Regions from separate parts of the Homo sapiens genome. Here region 1 is linked to region 2. A link means that fine-mapping ties the variant in region 2 to the expression of a gene that starts in the linked region. Tissue or cell type: tibial nerve. Region 2 holds a variant in brackets; the other region holds the start of a gene. All regions are shown on one strand. Distances are from middle to middle.

What was found. PIP is the estimated chance that this variant, and not a neighbour inherited with it, causes the effect.
Region 1: it holds the start of RRAD, and the variant in region 2 is fine-mapped to the expression of RRAD in tibial nerve (GTEx, PIP above 0.99).

What each region holds. Positions count from the first base shown.
Region 1 is chr16:66,921,052-66,929,152 of GRCh38, reverse strand. It overlaps RRAD (RRAD, Ras related glycolysis inhibitor and calcium channel regulator), which reads left to right and starts at 3,618. Exons shown (of 5, transcript NM_004165.3): 1 at 3,618-3,744; 2 at 3,959-4,343; 3 at 5,234-5,307; 4 at 5,433-5,637; 5 at 6,800-7,468. The coding sequence starts at 3,974. The coding sequence ends at 7,077. RefSeq lists enhancers at 912-1,081, 799-1,998, 6,464-6,987, 6,988-7,511 and silencers at 3,624-3,683, 3,814-4,253.
Region 2 is chr16:66,892,947-66,901,047 of GRCh38, reverse strand. It overlaps LOC124903700 (a long non-coding RNA gene), which reads right to left. Exons shown (of 2, transcript XR_007065089.1): 2 at 4,034-6,053. It overlaps LOC107984821 (a long non-coding RNA gene), which reads left to right. Exons shown (of 3, transcript XR_001752244.2): 2 at 380-455; 3 at 555-1,359. Among named protein-coding and RNA genes, the nearest start is that of PDP2, 16 kb to the right of the region's middle. RefSeq lists enhancers at 151-1,044, 1,045-1,940. The variant A/G (reference allele first, on the strand shown) is at 3,604.

The sequences.
Region 1 (8,101 bases), 28 kb before region 2:
GGTGCATGCCTGTGGTTCCAGCTACTCGGGAGGCGGAGGTGGGAGGATCGCTTGAGCCCAGGAGGTTGAGGCTGCAGTGAGCTATGATTGTGCCACTGCACTCCGTCCTGGGTGACAGAGCAACACCCTGTCTCAAAAAAAAAAAAAAACTTACAGCTAGGGAGTAAAGGAGGCCCTGAGCAGCTTGATAGGTGCTGTGCAGCTGGCAGGGGGCGCCGTTGCCTACAGAAGGGGCTAAGCCCATCCTGAACCCCAACTCCTATTGCTCCCACTCAGCTCACTCTTAGGAGGGAGTGGCCTCGCCACCTAATGACCAAGAGGAGGTGCTGGATCTGGCTACCTAAGATCAGAGAGGTGAAGCCATCAGCCCCTATTGCCCAGAGCTTCTTCATCTGTGAGGGGGATAGTCATGGCAACCACTTGGGACTGCCCTTGGGAGATTTAAATGGGTCTAGGCCTAGCTCTGATGATCTAGGCACTGTATCCCGCACAGATGAGGAAGCTGAGGGCTCCAGAGAGGCAGAGTGAACAGCTGAGCCCCAGGGAGCCTTCCCGAGCTGAAGGCCTCACACCCTACGACGTGTGTACCTTCTGCCGGACAGTCCCTGTCTGAGGTGGCCATGGTGTCTGTGTTGAGCTGGGGATGAAGGGAGTCATGGGGGCGGCAGGTGTGATTGAGTCATTTGGCTGGCCTTCCTGGCAGCCAGGCCATGGTGGGTGAGGGACACCAAACTGCTCATGCCACAGCTGACATATCAGATAGTTCTCTTGTCACTCTTGACTCATCAGTGCCTGGCCCCTGGCTGCCTGCAGGGCCACCATCTGTGCATCCTGGGCCAGTGCCCAGGGAACTTTCTGGAACCCCAGATGCTATCTGAGGACACAAGGGTACAGGGGATGGTGAAGTTTGAGGTTCCTGAAACCCTCCACCAGGTATGTCTGGCTCTGCTGTTTCTGGCCTGTGACTCCTCAGGCTTTGGTTACCATGTCTACAAAATGGGAACAACAAATCATAGCTGAGTTTGACCCAGGGATTAGATGACATGTATGAACATGCCCGGCCATGTCTATTTTTGCTCATCATCCTGCCCCCAGCACAAGGGCCTGGCACACAGTAGGTATTTAGTACAGGACCGCGGAATGAATGAATGCATTGGGCCTTAGAACACAGCAGAGGCTCTGGGGCCTGAAGGCTGTGGTGTGAGGAGGGGGTGGGGACACTGAAGCCCAGCCCAGTTCCCTCTGCAGCATCTTGTCACCTGAGGGACGGGGAAGAGTGTGGGGTCCTACAGAGAGGAGACATGGGTATGGGGCTAGGGGAGAGGTATCTGCATTGTTCCTGAGACCTCTGCCCCACTCCTGGACAGACCACCATCCTGGAGAGAGTGGAGCAGAAACAGGAGAGGGACCACAAATTCACCTAACCTGCCCCATCCAACGAAGGATGATCATGATAAACGTGCTCTTAGTGAGATATTACTGTGTGCCCGACTTGAGCCAACTACTGTGCCTCTGCATTTCATGTTTGTTTTGTCTTATAATAACCATCAGGAAGAGGTGATCCCTGTTCTACACTGGAGAAACTGAGGCTCAGCCTAGATAAATGGACACAGGTGAAACAGCTAGCAAGGAGCACAGCTGGGATCTGAAGCCCGGGCGGACCTAGGAGTGGTTCTAGCCTCAGTTTATTCCTCCTGGGCAGCCATGCTCAGCCCAGAGAGCTGGGAGAACCAGGTGGTGGGAGTGGGGGTGTCTCAAGGTTGTGTCCTGGTGTTAATCCCTGGGGCCCCTGGCCATATCTAGCTTGTGGTGAGTGTCTCTGGCCTGTTGGAGCAGCCACTGGAATGCCTGGGGCTTGAGTGGCCCTTTGTGGTTGCAGTTCCCTTGGCAATGAAGAAACACTGCTGAGGTCAAGAGCTCAGATTGCCAGAGGGGAAACCCAGCCCTCCTTCTTTGCATGGCCCCCTGCTGGGAAGGGCCACAGCTACCCCCCACCCTCGCCCTCTGCCAGACACCCAGAGGAGGCTCTTTCCAGTGGCACAGTCATGGGGTTGGAGGGGGCACAGGCAGCCCAGCCAGGATTCCTCATGGGAAGTGTGTGGTGGCTCTTTAGACTTGCCTGCTAACGGGAGGCTCTGCCCATAACTTCCTCTTCCCACTGGAGTTCGTTCAGGAAGCCAGAACCAGCATGGGGATGCTCAGGCCTCCAAGATCCCCTAGGACCATGGGCAGGCCACCCCTCAGCCCAGCTTTTGCCTACTTTGAAGACCTCAAGGACAAGAGGGCCCTAATCTTACCGAGCCAGGCCCTCCTCAATCCAAGGCCTTCTTAGGCGTTGCCAAGGAAACTGATGCAGCAGCCAAAGAGCCTGGCCCAGGTCTCCATGACAACCTACCACAGCCCACCAGGGTCCATCCATCTGTGATGTCACCTGAGCCCCAAATGGATGCCCTCCCACCCCCACCACACTTGTCACAATCAGATGTCACAGTCTGATAGCAGGTCCCTGTCACAAAATACCTCACAGCCTGACCTGCAACCCTCAGACCCCTGAGAGATGAGCAGGGAGCTAAGACACTCCTCATGCCTTGACCACACCCTGTGTTTATGCCCCTTTTGGGTGGGGGCCTGAACCTCCAGGCCCTGGATGTGCCCTGGGTGGCTGGCTCAGCCTACAGCTAGAGGGAAGAAGGGAGACCTTGACGACTCGAAGTGGCTGGCTCCTGCTGGCATTCAACACCCATTGGCCTGGATTTCCCCAACTCTGGGCAACTTCCAGTCCAGGAGCAGAATAACCAGAGCCACGGCCAGGGCCAGGGCTGGGGCAGATTATTTATTTTTAGCAGAGTTGCTGGCAGCTGCCTGGTGGGTGCTGGGAGGTGGGATGGGGACTGAGTTTAATCCCTTCCCTCTTCTGGGCTGGGGTATCCTCCCCAGGGTTCAAGCAGGCATCTCCACCTGCAACTCTGTCAGAGCTGCCCCCACCCCCAACAGCCCTCTCAGGGCCCCCAGGGGCTCATGGGGTGACACCAACCCTCACACTGAAGGTTAGGCTCATTAGGGAGAATCTTCAACTCCAGGATGGGGAGTGGAAAGGATTTTGTGTGAATTTAGGACACCCCCTAAATTCTAGCTCAGACCTGAGCCTATGGGGAGTGGGTGTCATGGGCAGAGAAGGGGGATCTCTGTCCAGCCTGTAACTAGCTTACTTGCTAAAAGGACGAGCCGGGACTTGGGGAGAGGAAAGGGAGAATTCAGTCTCACGGGGCCAGACCGAATTCTTCTCCAGAGGGCAGTTGCTGCTTTTGGCTGATTGGGTTTACCCCGCTGCCTGCCTCCCCATCACGTACTCCCCCCGCAACCTCGCTCTCTCTCTCCTTCTCACACACACCCTCAGCTCCGGACCTCGCCTACCGGTCAGCCCCTCTATTCCCAGACAGCTACCGCTACTCCCCTGGCGGGTAGGGCGGGGTGTCGGGGATGTAAGGTCCGAGGAAGAGGGTGGGGGATTCCCCTGGTGGGGGTGGACAGACACGTCAGCCCCCGCAGCAGCGTGGACCGGGGGCGGGAGCGGGGGCGGGTGGAGGCTTAAATAGGCGGCTCTGGAGCCAGAGCCCAGTGCGGGCTGAGAAGGCGGTGGCTGCAGCAGCAGCGGCGGCGGAAACCCTAAAGTCCGAGTCCGGACTACGAGTGCGTGGCCTCCTAATCCGGATCCTAGTCCTGAGCGTGTCTGTGTGCGAGTGGGTGAGTGTCCTGGCGGAGCGGGGTCGGGGCGGCTGCAGATGGATGCGCCAGGTCCGGAGGGGTCCCGGGTGAGGGCGCCGCGACCTGGGGGCTGGGGGAGGGCTGCGGCGGGACCTCGGCCGGAGCATCCCGCCTGACTCCGGGTTGGGCAGGTGCGCCCCGGGTCCCGCCTCCCTCGCGGCTTACACGGCCACTCGGGTTCCTGATCCCCTAGACGGTCCCGGACGCGATGACCCTGAACGGCGGCGGCAGCGGAGCGGGCGGGAGCCGCGGTGGGGGCCAGGAGCGCGAGCGCCGTCGGGGCAGCACACCCTGGGGCCCCGCCCCGCCGCTGCACCGCCGCAGCATGCCGGTGGACGAGCGCGACCTGCAGGCGGCGCTGACCCCGGGTGCCCTGACGGCGGCCGCGGCCGGGACGGGGACCCAGGGTCCCAGGCTGGACTGGCCCGAGGACTCCGAGGACTCGCTCAGCTCAGGGGGCAGCGACTCAGACGAGAGCGTTTACAAGGTGCTGCTGCTGGGGGCGCCCGGCGTGGGCAAGAGCGCCCTGGCGCGCATCTTCGGCGGTGTGGAGGACGGGCCTGAAGCAGAGGCAGCAGGTGAGGGGACCCAGCTGTTCAGGGGAGGGGCGATCCCGGGGCTAGGACTAGGGGCTGAGACCGGTACTCAAAGCCGCAAATACCGTGGAATTATAGTTGTTGTTGTTGTTATTATTATTATTATTATTATTTTATTATTATTTTGAGACAGAGTTTCGCTCTTTTTCCCAGGCTGGAGTGCAGTGGCCTCGATCTAGGCTCACTGCAACCTCCGCCTTCAGGTTTCAAGGGATTCTCCTGCCTCAGCCTCCAGAGTAGCTAGGATTACAGGCGCCTGCTACCACGCCCGGCTAATATTTGTGTTTTTAGTAGAGTTGGGGTTTCACCATGTTGGCCAGGCTGGTCTGGAATTTCTGACCTCGTGATCCGCCCACCTTGGCTTCCCAAAGTGCTGGGATTACAGGCGTGAGCCACCGCACCTGGCCAATACTGTGGAATTCTATTGGCGCTTTCAGAATCATGCCTCTACCTACCCACTTCATAAATGGGGAAAGGAAAGGAGAAGGGACACCCCCCAGCCTTTGGTAGGGAAGAAATGCCCAGAGTAGAAGGCCAGGGCATAGATATGGCTACTCTGTGGGATGGGACTGGACATCCCTCCCTGCCTATCAGGGACAGGTCAGAGTTTCTAACCAGAGGGATTTCTAAGAGAGGAGCCCTAGGTGGCCAAGGTCCCCAGGGGGGGCATGTGGGTGGAGGTCAGGCACACCATGCCCTCCAGCCCCCACTTCCCTGCCTGGCACTGCTGTTGCCACATACCAGCATCTGCAAGTGGAGTGGAGGGTAAGGAGGGCTCTGGGGAAGAGTTGGAGGGTGTGGCCAGAACAGGAAACCTGGCAGCAGCGGCTTTGACAACCAGCTGGTAACCTGTCTACTGGCCTTCTGCCTAGGGCACACCTATGATCGCTCCATTGTAGTGGACGGAGAAGAGGCATCACTCATGGTCTACGACATTTGGGAGCAGGTAGGGTGCAAGCAGAGACCCAGGGCAGGGGAGGGAGGAGTGAGTTGGGTTAGAGGTCTGGGAGTGCCAGGCTCGTGTCGGGGGCATGAGGACTGTTGGGCAGATGTGTGTTGTGTGTTCTCCAGGACGGGGGCCGCTGGTTGCCCGGCCACTGCATGGCCATGGGGGATGCCTATGTCATTGTGTACTCAGTGACGGACAAGGGCAGCTTCGAGAAGGCCTCAGAACTGCGGGTCCAGCTGCGGCGTGCACGGCAAACAGATGATGTGCCCATCATCCTCGTGGGCAACAAGAGCGACCTGGTGCGCTCTCGTGAGGTCTCGGTGGATGGTGAGTAGGCGGCAGGTTGCAGGGGGAGGGAGAGCCCAGCTGGGCCCTGATCCAGGCAGTCTTGGCTCAGCTTGAGTCCCTGGGGATCATCAGAGGCTAAAAATGTTCAGAAAGAAAACTGGCGGGGAGGGAAATGGGAGAGAGCTGGTGCCTGCTCACAGGGCTCCGGAAGGCCCCAGAGGGCTGGGGAAAGAACCAAATCTGATAGGGGAGCTGGGCACCGCAGGGCCCTCCTCTCCTGCCCCTCTTGGTCCTGGCCTGGCTGGTTGGGGGGGTAAATGGGTGGAAGAGAGTGTAGGGGAACAGGCCAGGAGGTCAGAGCCTGTGTGCTAGGTCTGGGCCATTCTTAGAGTAGACTTGGCCCTGGGGAAGACCCTTCCCACTTGGCCTCAGCATCCTTTTCTGTGGACCCCAGTACTGAGCCCCTCAGAGGAACCCAGCAGTGACTTGGTGACCTTGCCTCCGCAACCCCAGTCCACTGGATCATTCATCATGATATAACCTCGAATTAAAAAATACTAAGTTGTGCGGGGCATGGGCCAGGGGGTGGCTAACGCCTGTAATCCCAGCACTTTGGGAGGCCGAGGCGGGTGGATCACGAGGTCAGGAGATCGAGACCATCCTGGCTAGCATGGTGAAACCCCATCTCTACTAAAAATACAAAAATTAGCCGGGCGTGGTGGCGGGCGCCTGTAGTCCCAGCTACTCGGGAGGCTGAGGCAGGAGAATGGCGTGAACCCGGGAGGCGGAGCTTTCAGTGAGCAGAGATTGTGCCACTGCACTCCAGCCTGGGAGACAGCGAGACTCTATCTCAGAAAAATAAAATAAAATAAAATAAAATACTAAGTTGTCCAACATAGTTCTCATTTTCCTGTGTTTACTACTGTCGTACTTTGTTTAAATATCAGGCTTCAAATTATTTCAATAAATGGATCTCCTTTTGAGGGCCACTGTTTTGGGGGCTCCTTAAATGCAGGCACTCTGCCTACTGGGTGACGCAGCAGTGCCCAGTACCCTCAGTACAGGAGCTGGGGTCTCTGTGTTTTCGGGGAGGACCTTGCAAATTCTCGAGTGGCAGCTTCCATGGGTGGCCACTGTTGGAGGGGACTCCTCATTCACCCACCCTTTGTTTACTGGTGCCTGCCTTTCCCCACCCACACAGAGGGCCGGGCCTGCGCGGTGGTCTTTGACTGCAAGTTCATTGAGACATCAGCGGCATTGCACCACAATGTCCAGGCGCTGTTTGAAGGTGTCGTGCGCCAGATACGCCTGCGCAGGGACAGCAAAGAAGCCAACGCACGACGGCAAGCAGGCACCCGGAGGCGAGAGAGCCTTGGCAAAAAGGCGAAGCGCTTCTTGGGCCGCATCGTAGCTCGTAACAGCCGCAAGATGGCCTTTCGCGCCAAATCCAAGTCCTGCCACGACCTCTCGGTTCTCTAGGTCCCACCCGCTCCCACTATGGTGGGAGACGAACGGAAGGGTTGGTGGGCTGGCCCAGCCAACTGCCCCGGGTGCCTCAGAGCAGGCTCAGACTCTGGGTCCCTCGGAGCTGCCAGCCGGGCACCCCCAACCTCATGGTCATGGACAGATAGACAGTGCTGCCCTGCGAAGTGGCTCTCAGGGGCCAGTGAGGGCTGGGCCCACAGAGATGCATGCGCAGGCTCATATGCGTCCCAAGCAGCCGCAGCGCAGCCGCCGGGCAGGCCTGCGTGCCGGGAGAGGACTCTGCCTTTTTTCACAGCCCGGGTGTGCCTGCCCTGGAGGGAGGCTCTTCAGTGCGGTAGCTATTTGTTTACATGCAGATTTTTGTAATAAAGGCTATTTCCTGATAGTCATGGCTGTTGACTCTCTTTCCTCCTATCTGGGCGCTTCAGGAGCTGGAAGGATTTCTGAAGTTGAGGGATGGGGGCTCACTGCCCCACCCTAGTGTGTGGCCATGATGTGTTAATGTGAGGGTCCAGATTTAGCCAGCTGGGATGGGCATCGGGTCTGGTTAGAGGTTCAAGGAGCAGGAGACACAAACCCCTCCCAGTCCCTGTTATCCAGATTCTTCTCTTTCTGCACTGGGGCCTGGCGTTGCCCAACTGATTGAGGGTTCAATCACTTCACTGTCCATAAAGGGAAACAGGCTGCTCAGGGGAGCACATTCTGCCCTGGGTCTCACAACCAGGCAGGAACCCTGGGTCTCACAACCAGGCAGGAACCCTGGGTCTCACAACCAGACAGGATCTGGCTCCACAGCTGGTATTTCTGCCCTGTTCCCTCTTGAGGGGCTGGAATCAGCTGAGGTTGGGGATAGAGACCTCCGAGGGGTGGTTTGTGAAGGCACACACAGCTCCACATGGCTCCTCCACCACTTCACTGGGGTTGAGCTACGGAGGAGGCACTCACTGTTCTCTCTACCATGAGTATCCAGGCCAGAACATTCCATGCTCAGCATTGGCTAATTCAGTTTTGGTGGGAA
Region 2 (8,101 bases):
CTCCTGCCCTCAGGCTCACCCCAGATGAACATAGACAAGCTGACATGATGGACGCTGACTTGGGGACAGATGGCACCTGACCCAGCTCCAGGGTGGGGGTTGACAAAGGCAGCTGGAGAGGGGAAAGGTGGTCAGGTTGGGACAACTGTCTGGGCAAAGGCTCAGAGGTGTGGCTGTGCTCAGGGGATTGGGACACACTGCAAAGTTTCCTTAAGGCTGGAAGTCGCCTGATAGGCACCGGGGGGTGGGAGAGTGGGGGCGTGGGAGGTAGGGGGCAGGCAGAGGGTTGAACAGAATATTTATTTGCTGAGCTGGAATTGAGCCCTAGTCCCTTTCCCAACACAGACTTATCTCTTCCCCCCACAACCATCCTCACCAGAATTTTGGCCAGAAACAAGAGGAGTCCTGTCCGAGGAGAGCCCGGCTGGCTGACTGGAATCCCAAGACATGCCAAGGTGTTAGAGGCACTGCCAGGGAGACCCCTCGGCCCTTCACACAGTGGCTATCCTCTGGGATATTCCTGTATCCACAAAATGTATTTTCTGCACACACAGGTCCCTGGGAAATGACAGGACACCCAGATCTGCTGGGAGCAGAGTTCTCATAGGGTCCCAGCTGAGCCCTGGAACTCCCCAGACCCCCTCTGCCACTCCATCTCTGCGTCAGCCCAGCACCTGTGCCCTATCCGGCTTTGGCCACCATCTCCACCCTGGGGAGGGGGAGCATAACCCCCTCCAGCCTGAGGTTGGCGCCAAGGTTTAGGAGCCAGCACAGAAGCCTCTGAGAGCCATAAGGGTAGAAAAGGTTACCCGGTACTAAACCAGCCAGCCTCGGGGTGATCTCATCCACTTCCCAAGATAAGCCCCCTCCCCCACCCTCTGGCCACTGGCCAACAGGGTAAGTCACGAGGGAGCTGGTGGAAGAGTGTGTGTGAGGGCTGGGGGAAGGATTTCAACTTGGGGTCACACTGTACATTCTGTTTTGTGATCAATTCCCCCCAACATTTACAGTATTGACAATTAGCAGTTTCCTGTCAGATAAACTATAAAGATCTTCCCCCATCACTTTTTCTTTTCCTAATTATTTCTAAAGTCTGCCAGGATGGACACATCAGAATCTCTTTGTCCAGCCCTTGAGGAGGACATGTAAACAGTGTCCAGTTTCTCTTTCTTACAAACACCAGTGCCATAACCATTTTTGTTCAAATCCTCTTACGCAATTGCCTCTCTCTCTCTCTCCCTTTCTCTCTTTCTCTCTCCCTCTCTCTATTTCTCACTCAGTTGAGATAAATTCTGCCTGGTAGCAGGTGGGAGGGCAGGCCTCACTGTGTGCCTGAGTAGTTCTGGGCCCTTCCCCAAGCCAGAGGTGCCAGGCCCAGGGCAGAGGCCAGTCCAGGGCCACAGGGTCAGGACAGTGGACAGGCTATGGTCTGCTGGACTCTGCCTGCTCGAGGCGGGCTCCCCAAGCTTCCACCTGCTCTTGCCCACCCCCAGCCCCAAGGACTAGGCTGGCCTGGACACAGGGAAAGGCCATATACAGGGTATCACATGACCCATGCGTGCACACAGCCCCCAATCCCAGGCATAGGCAGAGGTCCCAGCCTCAGGGTGGGGCCCCCACACTCCGTCCAATTCACATCTTGCCTAGTGCTCCCCAGCTCTTGCTAGAATGCTTCCATAGACCAACAGCTCACTCTCCCTCCTAAGTTGCTGCCCGGCCTTTGGGGAGCAGGTGGAGCACATGCTTCTTATCAAATCAATACCTATTCGGTAGAATCACATGATTGCTGAGGAAGGTTTGGATTCAGACACCAGGGTTTCAAACTCGACTCTGCATTTACTATTTTTGTGACCTTGGGCACAACCTTTTACATGCCCAGGCTCAGTTTCTTCATCTGTAAAATGGGTTAATAATACTTGATCATAGGGTTGCATGAAGATTAAATGAGATAATACATGTAAAGTGCTCAGCAAGGCTCACAGATGTGACCTAGTTTATGATCACAAATTATCACAAATTGAGTCCCTACTATGTCCAGTTAACAGAGAGACTCCCTCACTGGAAGCAACTCAGAGTGGCTGAAGCACAGAAGTGGTAGAGGTATGAGATGGGGTTGAAGAGTGGGCAGGGCCAGGTCACACTCAGCCTTGCACATCATGAAGGGATTGTGACATTTTTCTGACTCCTTGGAAGCAGGGGAGGATGGTGGGAGGCAGAAATGGGAGGATGTCACTGAAAGCTTTTATTATTTTTTTTAATGATTTGTTTGTTTGTTTGTTTGTTTGTTTTAGAGACAGGTCTCTATTGCTCAGGCTGGAGTGCAGTGGCATGATCATAGCTCACTGTAACCTCAAACTCCTGGGTTCAAGCGATCCTTCTGCCTCAGCCTCCCAAGTGGCTGGAACTACAGGGGTGTGCGACCACTCCTGGCTCATTTTGTTCAACATTATTTTGTTACAACATTGATGAAGAAAAAAATCTATTTCTGGCTGGGGCTACTGTCTGTGTGGAGTCTGTAGAGGACTTTCTCTGGGTACTCTGGTTTCTTCCCCCATCCCAAAGATGTGCATGTTAGATTAACTAGCTTGTCTGCATGCTCCCAGTCTGCATGAGTGTGAGTGTACTCAAGGCAATGGCATCCTGTCTAGGCCTGGTTCCCGCCTGGCGCCCTGAGCTGCTGGGATAGGCTCCAGCCATCCATGACCTTGAACTGGAATAACTGGATAAATAATTCTATTACTTGTTTTTATTAATCTTTCTTTCTTTCTTTTTTTTTTTTTTTTTTGAGATGGAGTTTCACTCTTGTTGCCCACGCTGGAGTGCAATGACACAATCTTGGCTCACTGCAACCTCCGCCTCCTGGATTCAAGAAATTCTCCTGCCTCAGCCTCCTGAGCAGCTGGGATTACAGGTGCCCACCACCAAGCCCGGCTAATTTTTGTATTTTTAGGAGAGACAGGGTTTCGCCATGTTGGCCAGGCTGGTCTCAAATCCCTGACCTCAGGTGATCCACCTTCCCCAGCCTCCCAAAGTGCTGGGATTACAGGTGTGAGCCACCACACCTGGCCTTGTTTCTATTAGTCTTTCTTACACGTGTTTCAATGTTTAATATGAGAAGCATTTGGGTCTTTATTTAGAAGTCTGATGATATTTCTATCACCAGAAATATGCTGTAGGAACTTAACTCTTGTTTATGTCAATTAGCCTATGACAAAATTGGTTTCCTTGTATGTCATTTTGCTTAAAGCTGCAATTTCCAAGAACTACATTAAGTGAGGACATTATATAAAGACTTACTATATTCTATTAGTTGTTGTCAGGCCTCTGAGCTCAAGCTAAGCCATCATATCCCTTGTGACCTGCACCTATACATCCAGATGGCCTGGAGCAACTGAAGATCCACAAAAGAAGTGAAAATAGCCTTAACTGATGACATTCCACCATTGTGATTTGTTTCTTCCCCACCCTAACTGATCAATGTACTTTGTAATCTCCCCCACCCTTAAGAAGGTTCTTTGTAATTCTCCCCACCCTTGAGAAGGTACTTTGTGAGATCCACTCCCTGCCTGCCAAACATTGCTCCTAACTCCACCGTCTATCCCC[A/G]AACCTATAAGAGCTAATGATAATCCCACCACCCTTGCTGACTCCTTTTTCGGACTCAGCCCGCCTTGAGTCCAAAATAAATAAACAGCCTTGTTGCTCACACAAAACCTGTTTGGTGGACTCTCTTCACATGGACGTGCGTGAGACAGTTATAAGCAAGACTCTAAGGCCAGCCCAGATTCAAGAGGAGAGGAATTAGACCCCACTCCTTGATGGAAAGAGTGTCAAGGAATTTGTGGTTATCCTTAAAACCATAACAGGGCCAGCTGGAGCAACATGGCGAAACCTCATCTCCACAAAAAATACAAAAATTAGCCAGGTGATGGTGCACGCCTGTAGCCCCAGCTACTCGGAAGGCTGAGGTGGGAGGATCACCTGAGCCAGGGGAAGTTTGTCTCACGTGTCCGTGTGAAGAGACCACCAAACAGGCTTTGTGTGAGCAACAAGGCTGTTTATTTCACCTGGGTGCAAGTGGGCTGAGTCCGAAAAGAGAGTCAGCAAAGAAAGGGTGGTGGATTAATCATTAGTTCTTACAGGTTTTGGGATAGGCGGTGGAGTTAGGAGCAACGTTTGGCAGGCAGGGAGTGGATCTCACAAAGTACCTTCTCAAGGGTGGGGAGAATTACAAAGAACATTCTTAAGGGTGGGGCAGATTACAAAGTACATTGATCAGTTAGGGTGGGGCAGAAACAAATCACAATGGTGGAATGTCATCAGTTAAGGCTATTTTCACTTCTTCTGTGGATCTTCAGTTGCTTCAGGTGATCTGGATGTATACGTGCAGGTCACAAGGGATATGATGGCTTAGCTTGGGCTTAGAGGCCGGACATTGTTGAGGCTACAGTGAGCCATGATCCTGCCACTGCACTCCAGTCTGGGCAACAGAGTGAGACTCTGTCTCAAAACAAAAAGCCCATAGCAAGAAGCAAAAGTTGGAGGGTTCTCGGCTCCATCCCAGGGATAACCAGGGCACAGGCCCAATGCTTGCAAGAGGTGACTTCAGCTTGTGAGGAAAGACAAGGATCTCTTTCTCTTTTCCCACTCTTTCCTCCCTAACATTTTAAATGCATGTGCAAGTGCCTACTTCATACCAGGCACTGGGCTGATCCCTGGGGACTCAGAGGAGAGTCAGAGGAGGTCCCTGGTGCCGCCAAGAGGGCAGACAGACTGACAGACATTGGCAAGCTATCTGAGGAGATGTGATGGAGGTCCCAGTGCCATGGGAACTGGAGACAGGAGCTGGTACTGCCTGGAAAGCCAGGAAGTCTTCCCAGGGCAGGGGATGCTTCAGCAGAGTCATGCTGAGTCGCAGGAACAAGACAGGTGGAGGTGGATGGTGCAGTGGTAGGTGTTCCAGCGGAGGGAACAGCAAGGCCAAAGGCCTGGCATGTTCTAGGAACATGTGACAGCCATGCCCACCCTGCTGGGAACAGATGGAGGAGGCTGGAGAGGCCACCCTGGGGAGAGGGAGTCTGAGCTTTCCTCCTTAGGGTGAGGGGGAGCCATGGTTCGGAGCAAAGGAGTGACATGGTCACGATGACTGTGGTGTAGTGGGTGGAACTGACTAGACGGACAGCCGTCATTTGGGGCAGTGGAAGATAAAGGTGGTGTAGTCCATTATTGGAACTGGGACAGGGGAGGACAGATGGGAATGGCCCCCCGGGCTGCTGGAAGAGTGGTTGTGGGGACTGGCTGTAGGGAATGGGGTAGGGAGGATGGGGGTCAGAGGCATGGGGTGGTCCACAGAGGAGAACAGCCATGCGGGGGAAGATGGTCAAGGTGGCAGCCACTCCCCCACCATCTGGAGCTCACTGCCTGGCTCTGGCTTCTCCTGGGACCCCAGCAGTTCCTTCCCTACAAGACAGGGCTGGGTGACCACAGGACCGGCCCTTCCTCCACCCACACTTGTTCCCAGCCCCAAAGACATCCCAAGTCCCAGGAGGCTTTCCAAAGGTGCTCCAAGCTGCAGTCGCCAGGAGACCCAGCTTGGGCTGGGGACAGGCCTCAGGCCGCATCTCATGAACATTTTCCTCCAACGGCACTCAGCTGATGCCAGTGTGGTCAGATGGCGACATCTAGAGGCAACTTCTGCTTCATGCTGCCTCACTCACAGAACCCCACAGCCAAAGGCTCCCCACTGGTGTTCTCATCATGCCACCCTCAGGATTTAGTAACCAAGACACCAGTCAGAGCTTGGAAGAGCTTCTCCACCCCTTCATGCCAAAGCCCAGTACAGGGCTGGCAAGGTCCCTGGGACCCCAAGTGAACCGTGGACACTCTCCCCTTCCACAGGCCCAGGAGCATGCTGGCTGGTTGACAACCTTCCCCACACCATCCCTTCACTGCTTCGTTTCAGAGGAAGGGATTCTAGCAGCTCAGCCAACTCTCCGCTCATACAGCAATGTCCTCACCTCCGCCTCACCATCCGGGATCATCCTGTGTCCAGGGCCCTGAGTGAGAACACAGAATGGCCCTCACCTTTCTGTAGTGTTCCCCTTTTTCTGTTTTTGTTTGTTTGTTTTGTCTTGTTTTGTTTTGGAGACAGGAACTCATTCTGTCACCCAAGCTGCAGTGCAGTGGTGCGATCATCTCTCTTTGCAGCCTTGACCTCCCGGGCTCAAGCGATCCTCACACTTCAGCCTCCCAAGTAGCTGGGACCACAGGCATGCACTACTACACCTGGCTATGTAGTGTTCTTTTTTTGGCGAATTGTTCATTTCCATCCACCCACACCCAAAGCCCCTCTGGTACTGGACACTCCTCACCAACTTTCCTTGCTTTTCACAGCCATGCAGCCACTCACTGTTTGCCTCCTTCTCTCTCACCTGCTCCTCCCTGAATTGTCTATCCACCACACCATCAGTCCTCCCATCCTTCCTCACTCATTCCACAGGCAGCCTGTGCACCCCCAGGGCAGGACAGGGGACCAGGACTGTAGCCACAGGGGTGGGGATGAGGAGGAGGCAAACGAGGAAACAAGAATACCCAAAAGCCCTGGTATCAACATGCAGGGAAAGTGGGGGACTGAGGCAGGACTTTCTGCTTTGCCCCCTCCCTACCTCTATGCTGATGAAGAGCCAGCCATGCCTCCAGCCCTTCCTGAGGCCACCACATGATCTTGCTTATTTTCCCATTCCAGGAGGTCACCTGCAGGGCTCCTCCCACCTAGCCACAATGGCTAGTCCCGCTGCCTCCACAGTGGCCCTGCAGCCCCATCCCAGACCCACTGCACGGGGTCACAAGCTTGTGCAGGGTGGACAGAGCAGTAGCTCATGGCAGACATTCCTTCTGTTCATCTGTTGCAGGGAAAATGGGGTGAGGCATGGGAGGGGTTCCCAGAATCCCAGAAAGGCAGAAGGAGTTGAGATCTGAGACAGAGTAGGCTTTGGAGACTCCCTCCACAGACCACTCTCCCAGGGGCTAGGTTAATGGGCCTGCTTTGGGAAGCTGGGGCAGGTGAATCACCTGAGGTCAGGAGTTCGAGACCAGCCTGGCCAACATGGTGAAACCTCATCTCTACTAAAATACAAAAATTAGCCAGGTGTGGCTGCACATGCCTGTAGTCCCAGCCACTCGGGAGGCTGAGGCACAAGAATCACTTGAACCCAGGAGGTGGAAGTTGCAGTGAGCCAAGATCACGTCACTACACTCCAGCCTGGGTGACAGAGTGAGACTCTGTCTCAAAAAAAGAAAAAATGAAAAAAAAAAAAAAAAAAAGAAAAAGAACTGGGGCTGGACACGGTGGCTCACATCTGTAATCCCAGCACTTTGAGAGCCTGAGGCAGGAGGATCACTTGAGGCCAGGAGTTCAAGGCTGTAGTGAGCCATGACTGCACCACTGCACTCCAGCCTGGGCAATAGAGCAAGACCCTGCTAAAAAAAAAAAAAAAATATATATACATATATATATATATATATATATATATATATATACACACATATATATCAGAACTGGAGCCCAGGCCTCCACAGCCCCGCTCCCCCACTCCACCCTCCCTCCCACTTCCTGCCTTGCTCCTCCCAGCTAGATGATTTCCCAGATCAAGGCTGCTTGCTGGTAGAGAAAGTCAGGGGCCAATGGAGCAAAGATATTTGGACCCACAGACATCAGTAAAGGTTCATCCATCCCAGAGAGCTGATTGGAGCACTGGCCACCAACAATTCAGAGGATCACTAAGCTGGGGACCATTTAAGGGCATTTAGTAGCATCAAGTAAAATGGAAACAGAAACTCTAGAGATGGGCCAGGCATGGAGGCTCACACATGGAATCCTAGCACTTTGGGAGGCCGAGGCAAGAGGGTCGCTTGAGGCCAAGAGTTTGAGACCAGCCTGGATGACATGGCAAAACCCCATCTCTACAAAATACAAAAAAAATTAGCTGGGCATGGTGGCACATACTTGTAGTTTCAGCTATTCTGGAGGCTGAGGTGGGAGGATGGTTTGAGCCCAGGAGGCAGAGGTTGCAGTAAGAAGATATCATGCCATTGCACTCCAGCC